Homo sapiens: one gene and its partner. The protein of the gene in region 1 interacts with the protein of each later gene in a pairwise test. Each region holds a gene or a part of one and is shown on either strand. Other genes may lie near its edges.

Region 1 (3,500 bases):
CCATGTTGGCCAGGCTGGTCTCGAACTCCCGACCTCAGGTGATCCGCCTGCTTTGGCCTCCCAAAGTGCTGGGATTGCAGATGTGAGCCACCACACCTGGCCCCTAGAACAATTTTTTAAAACTATATAATGGAGATCTTTTAAAATCAGTTCAGAGAGCAGCCTTATGTTTTTTTTTTTTTTTTTTGAGACGGAGTCTCGCTCTGTCGCCCAAGCTGGAGTGCAGTGGCTTGATCTTGGCTCATTGCAACTTCTGCCTCCCGGGTTCAAGCGATTCTCCTGCCTCAGCCTCCCGAGTAGCTGGGATTACAGGCACGCGCCACCATGCCCGGCTAATTTTTGTATTTTCTGCAGAGACGGGGTTTCACCATGTTGGCCAGGCTGGTCTCGAACTTCTGACCTCTGGTGATCTGCCTGCCTTGGCCTCCCAAAGTGCTGAAATTACAGGCATGAGCCACTGCGCCCAGGCTTACTTTAAAAAAAAAATTAATTTTTTGTAGAGACAGGAGAGTTTCGCTATGTTGCCACCTGAACATAAATGCTATTTTCTTTTTCTTTTCTTTTCTTTTTTTTGAGACGGAGTCCGTAGCCCAGGCTGGGGTGTGGTGGCACCATTTTGGCTCACTACAGCCTCCGCCTCCCAGGTTCAAGCGATTCTCCTGCCTCAGCCTCCCAAGTAGCTGGGACTACAGGCGTGCACCCCTGTGCCCAGCTAATTTTTGTATTTTTAGTAGAGACGGGGTTTCACCATGTTGACCAGGCTAATCTCAAACTCCTGACCTCAAGTGATCTGCCTGCCTTGGTCTCCCAAAGTGCTGGGATTACAGGTGTGAGCCACTGCGCCTGGCCCATAAATGCGATTTTCATTCCCATTTTCCAACAAGGCGACTGAGGTATACATTGAAGGTGAATTACTAGGACAAAAGAAAGATGGCATTTTACTTCAATAACAGTTTGTTACAACCTGTACTGCTACCTATCTGCCATGGGAGTGTGCCTTTCCCCACACTGACACCAGTGCTGGAAGTTATCAACCTCCTTCATCTTTGCCAACCTGATAGGTCAAAAGTGATCATGGAAGATCCACACTCGCTTTTTTTTTTTTTTTTTTTTTGAGATAGGGGTCTATTTCTTTTTCTTTTTTCAGAGATGGGGGGTCTCACTATTTCTTTTTCTTTTTTTCAGAGATGGGGGTCTCACTATGTTGCCTAGGCTGGTTTTGAACTTCTGGGCTCAAGTGATTCTCCTGCCTTGACCTCCCAAAGTGCTGGGATTACAGGTGTGAGCCGCCTTGCTTAGCCCTTACTGTCGTTTTTTTGTTTGTTTTTGTTTTTGTTTTTTTGTTTTGTTTTGTTTTGTTTTTGAGACAGAGTCTCGCTCTGTCGCCCAGGCTGGAGTGCGGTGGTGCGATCTTGGCTCACTGCAACCTCTGCCTCCCGGGTTCCAGTGATTCTCCTGCCTCAGCCTCCCAAGTAGCTGGGATTACAGGCACCCGCCACCACACCTGGCTAATTTTTGTATTTTTAATAGAGATGGGGTTTCACCATGTTGGCCAGGCTGGTCTTGAACTTCTGACCTTAGGTGATCCATCCATCTCAGCCTCCCAAAGTGCTGGGATTACAGGCGTGAGCCACCTTGCCTGGCCCTTACTGTTGGTTTAATGCCACTCTCCCTTAGGGTGACCAACCAATCCAGTTTGCCTGGGACCATTCTGGCTCTAGCACTGAAAGTCCTGTGTTCCAAGAAACACCCACCTCTCCTCCAACCTGGGCAAAGAGGGACGGTTGGTCAACCTGCAGTCCTGGGTTATAAGTGAGGCTGAGCGTGTTTGCCCATGGTCAAGAAAGAAGGGATCTTGGATGAGGGTGTGTAACAGGATCAGATTTGTTTTGTTTTTTTCTTAGAGTCTTGCTGTGTCACCCAGGCTGGAGTGCAATGGCCTGAACACAGCTCACTGCAGCCCCAAACTCCTGGGCTCAAGTGATCCTCCCACCTCAGCCTCCTGGGTAGCTGGGATTACAGGCATGCATCACCACACCCAGTTAACTTTTTAAAGAACACTTTTTTTTTTTTTTTAAGAGACAGGGTCTTGCTATGTTGCTCAGGCTGGTCTCAAACTCCTGGGCTCAAGTGATCCTCCCGCCTTGGCCTCCCAAAGTGCTGGGATGACAGATGTGAGCCATTGTGCCTAGCCAGGACGAGATTTTTAGAGGGTAGAGTAGGAATAAGAGCTTGCACTTATGAGGCACATGATGGCTTCAGCTGTCTGCTTTGCAGAGTCTCAAGAAAGCTCTGAGAACCTTAAGCAGAGGCCATTTTACATGTGAGGACACAGAGGTACAGAGAGGTGAGATAAATGGCCAAGGTCACATACCTAAGAGGAGAAGGAGGCAGGATTTGAATCGCAGCCTGCACGTCACCCCATGGTGAGTAACTGGTAAGTGAGTGAGCATCCCTCCTCTTCTCTTGCAGGCCCCCTGACTTGGGCCTCAGTGTCCCCGAAGATCATGATGGCGTATATGAACCCGGGGCCCCACTATTCTGTCAACGCCTTGGCCCTAAGTGGCCCCAGTGTGGATCTGATGCACCAGGCTGTGCCCTACCCAAGTGAGTACAGTCGTTTCTCTTGGCACCCCAGGCTGGCCTCATCTCTTGGAGGACCTCTGGGGTCCCTTTGCCCCCAGGAAGAAGGCAATCACAGGGGCGACTTCAGGGCCATACACCAGCCCTCTGGGTTCATCTGAAATGTATGTCACTTAGAAAAACATTAGCAGTCCTAGAAATTCAGGACAGAGGTTCCTTTTGGGGTGAGGAAGAGGGGATGTAATCTGGAAGGGGAATCAAGAGGAATTTTCATCTGTTACCAAAACTTTATTATTTATTTATTTTTCAGAGACAAGGTCTCACACTCTGTCACCCAGGCTGGAGTGCAGTGGTGGTGGTCACGGCTCACTGCAGCCTCGAACTCCTGGGCTCAAGCAATCCTCCCACCTCAGCCTCCTGAGTAGCTGGGACTGCAGGTGTGAGCCATTGTGCCTAGGCCCGGGGGGCACTTTTTTTTTTTAATTTTATTTTTGAGACAGGGTCTCACTCTGTTGCCCACTCTGAAGTGCAATGGTGCAATCACAGCTCACTACAGCCTCGAACTCCTGGGCTCAAGCGATCCTTTTGCCTTGGCCTCCCAAATAGCTAGGATTACAGGTGCACGCCACCATGCCTGGCTAACTTTTTTAAGTTTTTGTAGATTTTGCAGGATCTGGATTATACAAAACATAGAAAAAATTATTATTATTTTTTTTTTTGTAGAGATTGGGTCTCCCTATGTTGCCCAGGCTGGTCTCAAACTCTTGGGTCCAAATAATCCGCCTGACTCAGCCTCCCAAAGTGCTGGGATTACAGGCATGAGCCACTGCACCTGGCCTGCAAAGCCTTATTTCTTTTTCTTTTTTTTTCTTTCGAGACACAGTTTAGACGGAGTTTCGCTCCTGCCCAGGCTGGAG
Region 2 (3,500 bases), on another chromosome or scaffold:
TCACTGCATTAGCTTATTTTTTCCTCATTTTTAGTTCTTTCAAGAATCATTAATTCCATGCTTGAAAATGTCTGAATGGCACTAATGAGGATAAGTTTTTTAATCTTTTGAATTCTTAATGTGAACTAACAGGAAAAAAATCTCAGAGCTAACAAATTAGAGTTGGTAAAGGGCCGATTTATAAGTGTCTCACAATTTATGGGTGTAAATCAAAATGTTAACTAGTACAGTCATAAGCTGTTTGTACAATCCTTAGGCTTTAACTTCTTTGGAATTGGCAAGCTAGGCATTTGACATGTATTTATATAACTGTACGGTTGTAGTTATTAATGATCTTGTCATTATTGTTGATAATGAAAAAAGATCTTCACTATAATTTCTTCGTATAATTCTTATAATGAAACAAGTAAATACTATTAACTAGAAAAAATCTAGTCTGCAGTTAGCCCACACACATCCAAACTTATCTCTGCCAGCAGCAAAAGAAAGCTTGAAAACCTTTGCCAAAATCAGAAGTTTCCCATTTAGATTACATAAGTTTCTGTTGAATTGAAATATATTTAGATAACATTTAAACCATTGATCTTTTGGTATTAACTCTCAGATGTTTCATAACTTTCTGTCTTTTTAGTATTCAGGGATATTATGTAAAGTTTTTCCTGCACTGAATCTCTGTGCTTGAGCCTACTGAAATGATCCCCCTAAGCCATGCTGCCTGCCTTTTGTGTTTAATGTTTTTTTACACTGACTTATCTCCTTCGTGTGTTCACCTCTCCCCCAGAGGAAGACAACAGAACAGTATAATTTACAGTTTGTACAGGTTAAAAAAAAAAAAAAAGGTTGTAAGGTGGGGGGGTGATATTTTGTTTTAAAATATTTGGGTAAGGAAAATTTTGTCTTTAATATTAATTCTGTAATGCTTGACCAGGCATGGTGGCTCAAACCTGTAATCCCAGCACTTTGGGAGACCGAGGCGGGCGGATCGCATGAGGCCAGGAGTTCGAGACCAGCCTGGCCAACATGGTGAAACCCCGTATCTACTAGAGATACAAAAAATTACCCAGGCGTGGTGGTGCATGCCTGTAGTTCCCGCTACTCCAGAGGCTGAGGCAGAATTGCTTGAACCCGGAAAGTGGAGGTTGCAGTTAGCTGAGACCACACCACTGCACTCCATCCAGCCTGGGCAACAGAGCAAGACTCAGTCTCAAAAAAAAAAAAAAAAAAAAAAAACATAAAAATAAAAATATAATCCTTGACTGTTACCCAGTATTTTTACATTATTTATATTAATATCATTTGATCTTCACAGAGAATTCTATGGAGTACTGTAATATTATCCTCAGAGGGAAACTGAGGCATCTATGGATAGACATGCAGTGTGGCTTAGTGATTAAAGCTCTGCATGCTGGAAGCTGACACCTGGGTTCCAATCCTGACGCAGCCCTCGCCTCTCTCCGACCTTGTGCACGTTGCCTAACCTATCTGTGTTTTGGTTTCCTTATCTGAAAAATGAGAATAGTCTCTACCTCATAGGGTGTTGTGAGAATCAAATGAGTCAAAACATGCTAAGTGCTTTAAATAGTGCCTGACACAGAGTAAATGCCCAGTAAATATTAATTCAATATTTTTAAAATGTAGAAGTGTGTTACGGCTAGAAGGGGATTTTGCTGAAAGTGGAATCTAAACCTTGCAATTTTACATCCTGTTCTGTTCTATCACTTGGTAGAGAGTAACAATTACATCCCGATTTTAGTTTACACATGTTAACTAGCAGTTTAGCATTCATCAATAAACTATAGATACTTAAAAGCTTTAGCTATCAGAAGATCAGTCAAATTATAGGTAAATACTGAATACATTTAAAGAAAATGTAGAGGGTTTTTATTATCTTTAGTAACTCAACTAGGTTAAAATGAAGAAATTTGAATTTAAACAATACAGTAGTTTCCCCTTATTTGTGGTTTCAGTTACCCACATGGTACAGTATGATAAAATATTTTGAGAGACCACTTTCATGTACGTTTTATCACAGCATATTGTTATATTGTTCTATTTTATCATCAGTTATTGTTGCTAATGTCTTACTACACCTAATTTATAAATTAAAGTTTATCACAGGTATGATAGTATATATAGGGCTTGGTACTATCTGAAGTTGCAGGCATCCGTGGGAGTCTTGGAACGTATCCCCCTTGGGTAAAGGGAGGCTCTTGCTAACTTATTTATGTCCTTACTTATTGTGCAGAGGACTTGAAACAGTAAACACTGATGTCTGTATGGTGATTATAGTTCACAATTATTTTCATTTCTATTATCGTAATTGATCCATACACAAACTCATGTGAGATAGGAGGGCAAGTATTAATATCCCTAATTCACAGATGTAAGAAAAGTTGCAAGAATTTTGGGTGACTTTCTTAAGGGAAGTAAGTGACCAAGTTAAAACTGAAAGCAGAACCCAAATATGTGCATATTGATTCAAAACACAAAGTTGATTTAAAAATTAGCACGCAAAACATAAATCTAAAATATTCTTACTATTCAGCAAATTTTTATTGAGTAGCTACTATATACCAGGCATTGTTTTAGGTGCTAGAAATATAAAAAAGGAGTAAAATAAAGTCCCTGTCCTTGTAGAGTTTGTATTTTTTGTTTCTTTTGTAATTGCAGCAAATTGAAAATCCCTAGAAAATGGGGTTTACTGCTTAATTGGCTTCTACTTAACCGAGACTATATCTCTAATTATTTTCTTTGATTCATAAGGTACTTTAAGGATTTTTTTTCTTAGTGCCTCAGGGTTACTAAAAAGATCAACTGTAATGGCTTTTGATATAAATGATAAAAAAACTGATTCAAGTGTCCCATTTCAAATGAATAATTTGTTTTTTAACTGTTTTTCATTCATCAAATGCAGAATTTACCAAAACTGAATTATCTTAGATTTCTAGTTATTTATATATTAACTTTTTGTTTATTCAGAATCATTTTTCTGTTTGTTGGAATATTTCTAAGAGCCTTGGAAAATCTCGAGTAAAATTTTAAATGAATTTGTATAGTGTTCTGCCTCTTTCCAAAGGTATTTCTCAAAATTGGAATTGTTTTATTATTGAAGTTGAATGACTTCAGGGAACTCTAAAATGCAAGATGGAAGCTTCTGTTTGGTTTTTTCTTTCCCTTTGGTAAGGTCTTTTGCTTCCCATCCCCTTGACCCACCTTTGTGCTGTCTGTTGTCCAGTCTGCTCTCCTGATCCCTAAAGATGTTTCTTATCTAGGCTACCATTTATGTGGGTAAAAGACAAGGTAGAAAATACTCTTCTGTATCTTGTATCAAGGGTTAATCTAATATCTTCATCACTTTGTTTTGAGATATTTTGGAATGTTATCAACAATTATTATAGATGGAGCATGTATGTCTTAGGTTTGGTGTTAACTGTTTAACATGCATTATCTTATTCAATCCTCACAGCAGTTATAAAATGTAGGTGTTTTAGAGGTAAGCA

The links.
Region 2: the proteins of CRX (region 1) and LONRF1 interact in binary tests that used the Homo sapiens proteins (3 or more experiments, as listed by UniProt).

What each region holds. Positions count from the first base shown.
Region 1 is NC_000019.10:47,831,937-47,835,436, forward strand, and holds part of CRX (cone-rod homeobox protein), read left to right. Parts: intron 1-2,472; 5' UTR 2,473-2,507; coding exon 2,508-2,607; intron 2,608-3,500. UniProt on the Homo sapiens protein: Transcription factor that binds and transactivates the sequence 5'-TAATC[CA]-3' which is found upstream of several photoreceptor-specific genes, including the opsin genes.
Region 2 is NC_000008.11:12,749,027-12,752,526, reverse strand, and holds part of LONRF1 (LON peptidase N-terminal domain and RING finger protein 1), read left to right. Parts: intron 1-3,500.